Linked DNA regions of Homo sapiens: region 2 is linked to region 1. The links come from fine-mapping of genetic effects on gene expression. A gene starts in region 1. The other region holds a variant in brackets. All regions are shown on one strand. Distances are between the middles of the regions.

Region 1 (2,914 bases):
CTGATGGCATACTCAACTCCTGGACTGAATAATAAGTTATCTAGCCTTCTTGCTTTTTGTTTTTTCGTTTGTTTTTGTTTTGTTTTGTTTTTATGAAAGCACAGGGAACTGAAGAAATTGCATTAATTAAATTACTTGATACTTGCTAGTTCTGTTTTAAAAAGATAAACCATTAGCTAAAATGAAGAATCCAGTATAAGTATTTCATCCGAACGGAATCAACTTTGCTTTTCTGGTAACCAGAGTGAATGAAGGAAAGGGCATTCAAATAACATTCTCTGTTTCTAAATAGCATCCCTGAGGTTAGAAAAGTAGTAAGATCCTAGTTAGCCAGGTTGGGATACTGAAGGGAGAAGAGTTTAACTGGTTTTATTTTGTACCCATCATAGCAGACATACTTAGGAATGTTACTTGATTGTTCAGACTAAAACCTATCTTAGGAGTTCATTATTTTGGACATGTATGAATTCTAGAAGAATGAGAGAGGATGGTAATTTTAGTTTTGTGTTTGTGCTTAATAAAATTAGCTTGTACATTGCACTATGATTTATCAAGATTTTTTACATTCAACATAGTATTAAGTAATACATCAATATCCATGATTCCTGGGCTTGGTCGTTTTATTTGCATGGGTAGTTTCTTTATGCTTTGCATGTTTCCTGCCAATTAGTCCCCTTGCTGAGTTCCCTCAGTGAATTCACTAATACCTTAAGAGAGCTTAGGTAAGTTCAAATAGGTTTAATTTAAATTCTATTACAATGACTTGATTTGTAAATTCTAGGTCTCAAAGTTCCAAACTGGAAGCCGCCGCCAATTTAATTCATGAGGAAAAATATTAGCCGCAGCCTAAGTGAGGAGCTAGTTAGGACGTCTTAAAAGCGCGGGGAACGAGGAGGAGGTGGGCTGCGGGCAGGGTAAGCAGCCTAGGGAGGCCCGCAAAGACCTCCCTGGGTCCCTGCGTGCCATCAGTACCCCTATCTTTCCCTTCCTTCCTTACCACTCCACCTTGCTCTGCGTTTCAGGTTTTGGCTATTTCAGGGAGCTTGAGTTCCCCAAACAGCAAAACTGCGAGCCTGAAAAACCTGGCTCAAGCGCCCCTCGTGAGGCGGGCAGCGGGAGTGGCCGGGCTCTGGGCCCCAGGAGGCAGGCGACGGAGGCGCGGAGGGTGCGGGGCGCAGGCGGGACGCCAGGCCCGGGTGTCCGGCGGAGGGGGCGGTGCCCTCGGCGTCTCCGTGACTGCGCCTCTGCGCCCGCGTCTTGCCGCGGCTCCCGGGATGCGCGGAGGCGGTGGCGATGGCGATGATGCCTCTAGTCCTGCATCATCCAGAGCGGCAGGCGGAGCTGGGGTCCGGACTGCGAGATGGAGGAGGGGCGGCGCTGCGGCCACCCGGCAGGTGAGAGGCCGCGGGCCCCTGGAGGAGGACAACCCCACGATGCCGGAGACGGCTCCCGGAGGCTGGCGGGATAGCGAGGAGCGCGGCTGCGCTGGGCCAGGCCCGGCTCCGCGTACCTGTCTTCCTGGTGCGGCCTGCAGGGTAGCCTTCTCGCCCGTCCCTGCCGGTTCCCAGGCTCTGCTCGGCCGTGGAACCCCCCCCACCCACCCACCCACCGCCCCTACCCTGGCTGAGCCCTCCTAACCCACCACCCCTCTGCGGCATTCTTTTGCAAGCTTACCTGGCCCGGCCTAGGCCCTCCTTACCGTCACCTCACCCTTCTCCGGGAAGCCCCTACCCACCGCCAGCCCCTCACGGGGGGGTCGACCTTCCCTGCCCGCAGTTTCCCACTCTGTCCTCAGGCTGGGGGCTCCCTGGCCTCTTCATCCCTCCCATCAAATGACTCAGGTCTTCCCATCCCATTAGCTGCTCCGGGTTCAATGTAGTTCTACTGGATAGAAAGAGCAAGGGCTTTGAAATCAGATAATGACCTTGGGGAAGTTATCTAACCTCCCTGAGGTTTTCCTGATCGATAGAAATACAATGGGAATCACAATAATACAGAACCTTGCTCTCTGTGAGGATTAGGCTTTGAAAATGCTAACCTAAGACATTTTGGGGCGCGCGGGGAATGGGGTTGGAAGAATTCAGGTCGTGAGTTGATTTATGAAAGCCCCTATAGCATGTTTTAATGTTCACTAAAAATTTAAAACAGCACACTAGATATATCAGAGGCTGTTCACATATCTTAATGAAAAATCATTGCCACTCAAATTATACAATAAATTTTCATCCATATTCTTTGCTTGCTAGTTACTTCAGGATGTCTCATTTGTAAGAATATGCATGTGAATTCATTCTTACTGCAGCTAATATGCATGCTTAAGACTGGTGTTCCAGCTTAAAATCTTTCTGATTTTGTGACTTTAATCACATCTTCTATAACCTATTCTCCGTCCCAGAGATGAAGAGTAGCTTGTATGTTTGCATTGCAAATAACATGGGTAATCTTTATTGAATATTTATGAGTAGCAAAGCAGTATTAATTTATTCCCCTTCCAAAACCACTTTTATTTTCTGCCGTCATCATGTCATTCCAAATTATGGTCACAGCCTCCTTTTTCTTAAAGTCTCAGGAGTTACTACTAAGACCTGAGTTTACTTTCCCTCCATTTTCTTGATTTCTGTTATACTAAAGTTTTTCTGCAAACCTTTTCGTCTTTTCTGTCCTCTGCTTTTTCTCCCTTTTCTCTTCCCAGCCCATGATTCCTTTTTTTCTAATTATCTCAATAGGAGTGATTTATGATTACTTTATATGTGAACTACAGTTAGATACATAGAAGAATGTGTGTGTGTGTGTGTGTGTGTGTGTGTGTGTGTGTGTGTCTATCTGTATCTACATAGATGTAGATATAGCTATATAGGTGTATCAGAATTTCGGATTCCAGAAAGTTTCAGTGGGGAAGGGATTGCAATACCTA
Region 2 (2,914 bases), 73 kb before region 1:
AGACTCCATTACTTACTCACTGTTAATATTCACATAAAACATTGCATTGAACATAAAGCTTACTAACAAAGTAATCTTAGTGAAGGGAGAGATGTGAAGGATTACTTTGTTGACATCATTAAAGGAAAGTGAAGACATATCAAGCTTAGATTTCAATGTCATCTTTCATATAAGAATATTAGAACAGCTTCCTATTATAATTATCTAGTTTATCATTCATATATTGCTTCTGCAGCTATTTCTTCATGAATTATTATTCTGTTTTACACGTTAGCTTGTTTCTGTGGAAAAGACAATTTTTTTTTGTTTAAAAGTTTACTTCTTAAACTTCATTGTAAGAAAAACAAATTTAAGCCCCCCCTTGTTTTTGCCATTTTATTGTTACACAGAAAAATCCCATTTTTCTTAATCAGTAGGAGCAAACACTGAAAGATGTTTACTATCTTACATATGCAGTGAGTTGAAACTGGATTTTTGGGGGCTACAGAATTGGATAGTGATTAGTATTAGTTATTGTGTGAGTGAATTTTGCTCTGCTTTCTCACACAGTTCTCATTGGCAACTTCATTTTGTGTTAAGTGTGAAAATATGGCTGAGTGCCATGGCTCACATCTGTAATCCTAGCACTTTGGGAAGCCGAGATGGAAGGATAGCTTGAGCCCAGGAGTTTGAGACCAGCCTGGGCCACATGGCGAGACCCTGTACAAGAAAACAAAAGTAAAAGTAAGCACGGGCATGATAACACATGCCTATGGTATTAGCTCCTCAGCAGGCTGAGGTGGGAGGATCGCTTGAGCCTAGGAGATTGAGGCTGCAGTGAACCATGTTTGTGCCACTGCACTCCACCCTGGACAACAGAGGGAAACGCTTTTTTTTTTTTTTTTTTTTTTTTTTTTGAGATGGTCTCGCTCTATCGCCCAGGCTGGAGTGCAGTAGCGTGATTTCAGCTCACTGCAACCTCCACCTCCCGGGTTCAAGTGATTCTCCTGCCACAGCCTCCCGAGTAGTTGGGACTATAGGCGCCCACCACCATGCCCAGCTAATTTTTGTATTTCTAGTAGAGACAGGGTTTCACCATGTTGGCAAGGCTGGTCTCGAACTCCTGACCTCAAGTGACCTGCCCGCC[T/C]CAGCCTTACATCAGGTTTTTTATGCCTGATGTTAGCATTCTTGGTAATTTTAAGATGATAATCTTAGTGATAAATTTTAGTATCCAGGTTATTTACTGCAGAACAGTAAAGTACGCTGTTTGTTATCCTAAGTTGACAGGTATTTTTTTAGTTTTTTATGTTGGTTCAAGTAAGCTGCCCTTATTTGCAGTAGAATATTTTGAGTTGGTTTGCATGAAGTTCATCAGGGAATTGTTTTTGACTCTTATTTAAAGGTAGAATTTATTTTTGTCAGCAAGTTGACTATAAACTGTATTAGTGATTTACGTATAGGCTTGGGCCTGTTGACCTCTGTTTTTACAGTATGATGTGGGTACTGACATTTTTACTCTTTTATCTGGACAGGGTGGACCAAGTAAGCTAGTGCAAAAACACTTAGCTGGTTTGTTTAACAGCATCACATCTTTTTACCATCCTTCAAATAATGGGCGCTGGCTGGTGAGTAACTTCGTTTTGCATTATAGGGCTTGGAATTTTTAAAGATATGGTCATCCTTGACTATTGCCTATTGTGTGACCTGTAATACATTTTCTGTCCTTCATAGCTTTAGCTATATGTAAATGCTTACATTTAAATTAAATTACTGTGTGGGAGAGCATATAAATTAAATAAATAATATTGATGTGGTAACTGTTGACAACATGGCTCATTTTTGCAAAAAAATGGTAACAAAAATGCCTTAGAAGCATAGAACCATCTTTTCAGTTTTATCCTGTCATCTGTTTTTGTTGTTTTTAAGTTGTCCAGTTAAAATGGCTTTCATGTAATGGAAAATTATGTGCTAGAAATTTTTTTAGACTGGAATTTGAAACTCATTTTCATTAATTATTAGGAATAATTAATTGGTAACTTTTAATTCTATCTAGTTATGCTGTGCAGTTCTTTGTAATAAGATAATAAGAACTGTTATTTTTAAAATCTTTTCTCAAGAAGCTAGAGAGCAACCATGAATGTCTATGCGGCAAAGTAGAACCTACTTAGAACTTTTTGCTTCTGTGTCCCCAGAACAAGTTAATGAAACTACTTCAGCGGTTGCCAAACAGTGTTGTTAGAAGATTGCATCGTGAAAGATACAAGAAGCCCTCTTGGTTAACTCCTGTGCCTGATAGCCACAAGCTTACTGATCAAGATGTTACAGACTTTGTACAATGCATTATTCAGCCTGTCCTCTTGGCTATGTTTAGCAAAACCGGTAGTCTAGAAGCAGCCCAGGCTTTGCAGAATCTTGCACTCATGAGACCTGAATTGGTAATACCCCCTGTACTTGAAAGGTAAGTGGTTAGTGGGAGTCTCAGCCACAGCTAGGTTTTTCTTTTGGTCTGTTCAGCTCGATTCTCTTTTCTCCTCTGTGGCTTCTGTTTTGCTTCTTCGATGCTTATTCCTGTTCCTAGAGGAGAAGCAGGACATTTTAATGTAATGATTGGTAACTTGATAAAGGTTTATTGGAGAGAAAAAAATTGAAATGAAATGGGTAACATACATCTTTTGGATTCTTCACACATTTTAGTTACCAAAATTATATGCTTATGAATTAAGATCTGGCCTTCCTTTTTAGATCGAAATGTTGAGTGTCACTAAGGATTGAGAATATGGCAGTGAAAGTGGTTTTTGGATTTCTTTTATTTCTTAGAATCAGTGGTAGAGAAGAAAATTGTGTTTATTATTTTCATGTATTATATATTCAGGTGTGTTGTTTTTACAGTGTAAGTTTTATTTTATTCATTGTGTTTTGTGTGTTGAAATGGTAA

The links. PIP is the estimated chance that this variant, and not a neighbour inherited with it, causes the effect.
Region 2: its variant is the best candidate, but not a certain one, in a credible set for the expression of GPR75 in blood mononuclear cells (TOPMed, PIP 0.69).

The regions. Positions count from the first base shown.
Region 1 is chr2:53,858,308-53,861,221 of GRCh38, reverse strand. GPR75 (G protein-coupled receptor 75) reads left to right here and starts at 1,255. Exons shown (of 2, transcript NM_006794.4): 1 at 1,255-1,394. It overlaps GPR75-ASB3 (GPR75-ASB3 readthrough), which reads left to right and starts at 1,255. Exons shown (of 10, transcript NM_001164165.2): 1 at 1,255-1,394. The coding sequence starts at 1,294.
Region 2 is chr2:53,931,358-53,934,271 of GRCh38, reverse strand. PSME4 (proteasome activator subunit 4) reads left to right here. Exons shown (of 47, transcript NM_014614.3): 9 at 1,512-1,604; 10 at 2,172-2,437. Among named protein-coding and RNA genes, the nearest start is that of PSME4, 38 kb to the left of the region's middle. The variant T/C (reference allele first, on the strand shown) is at 1,127.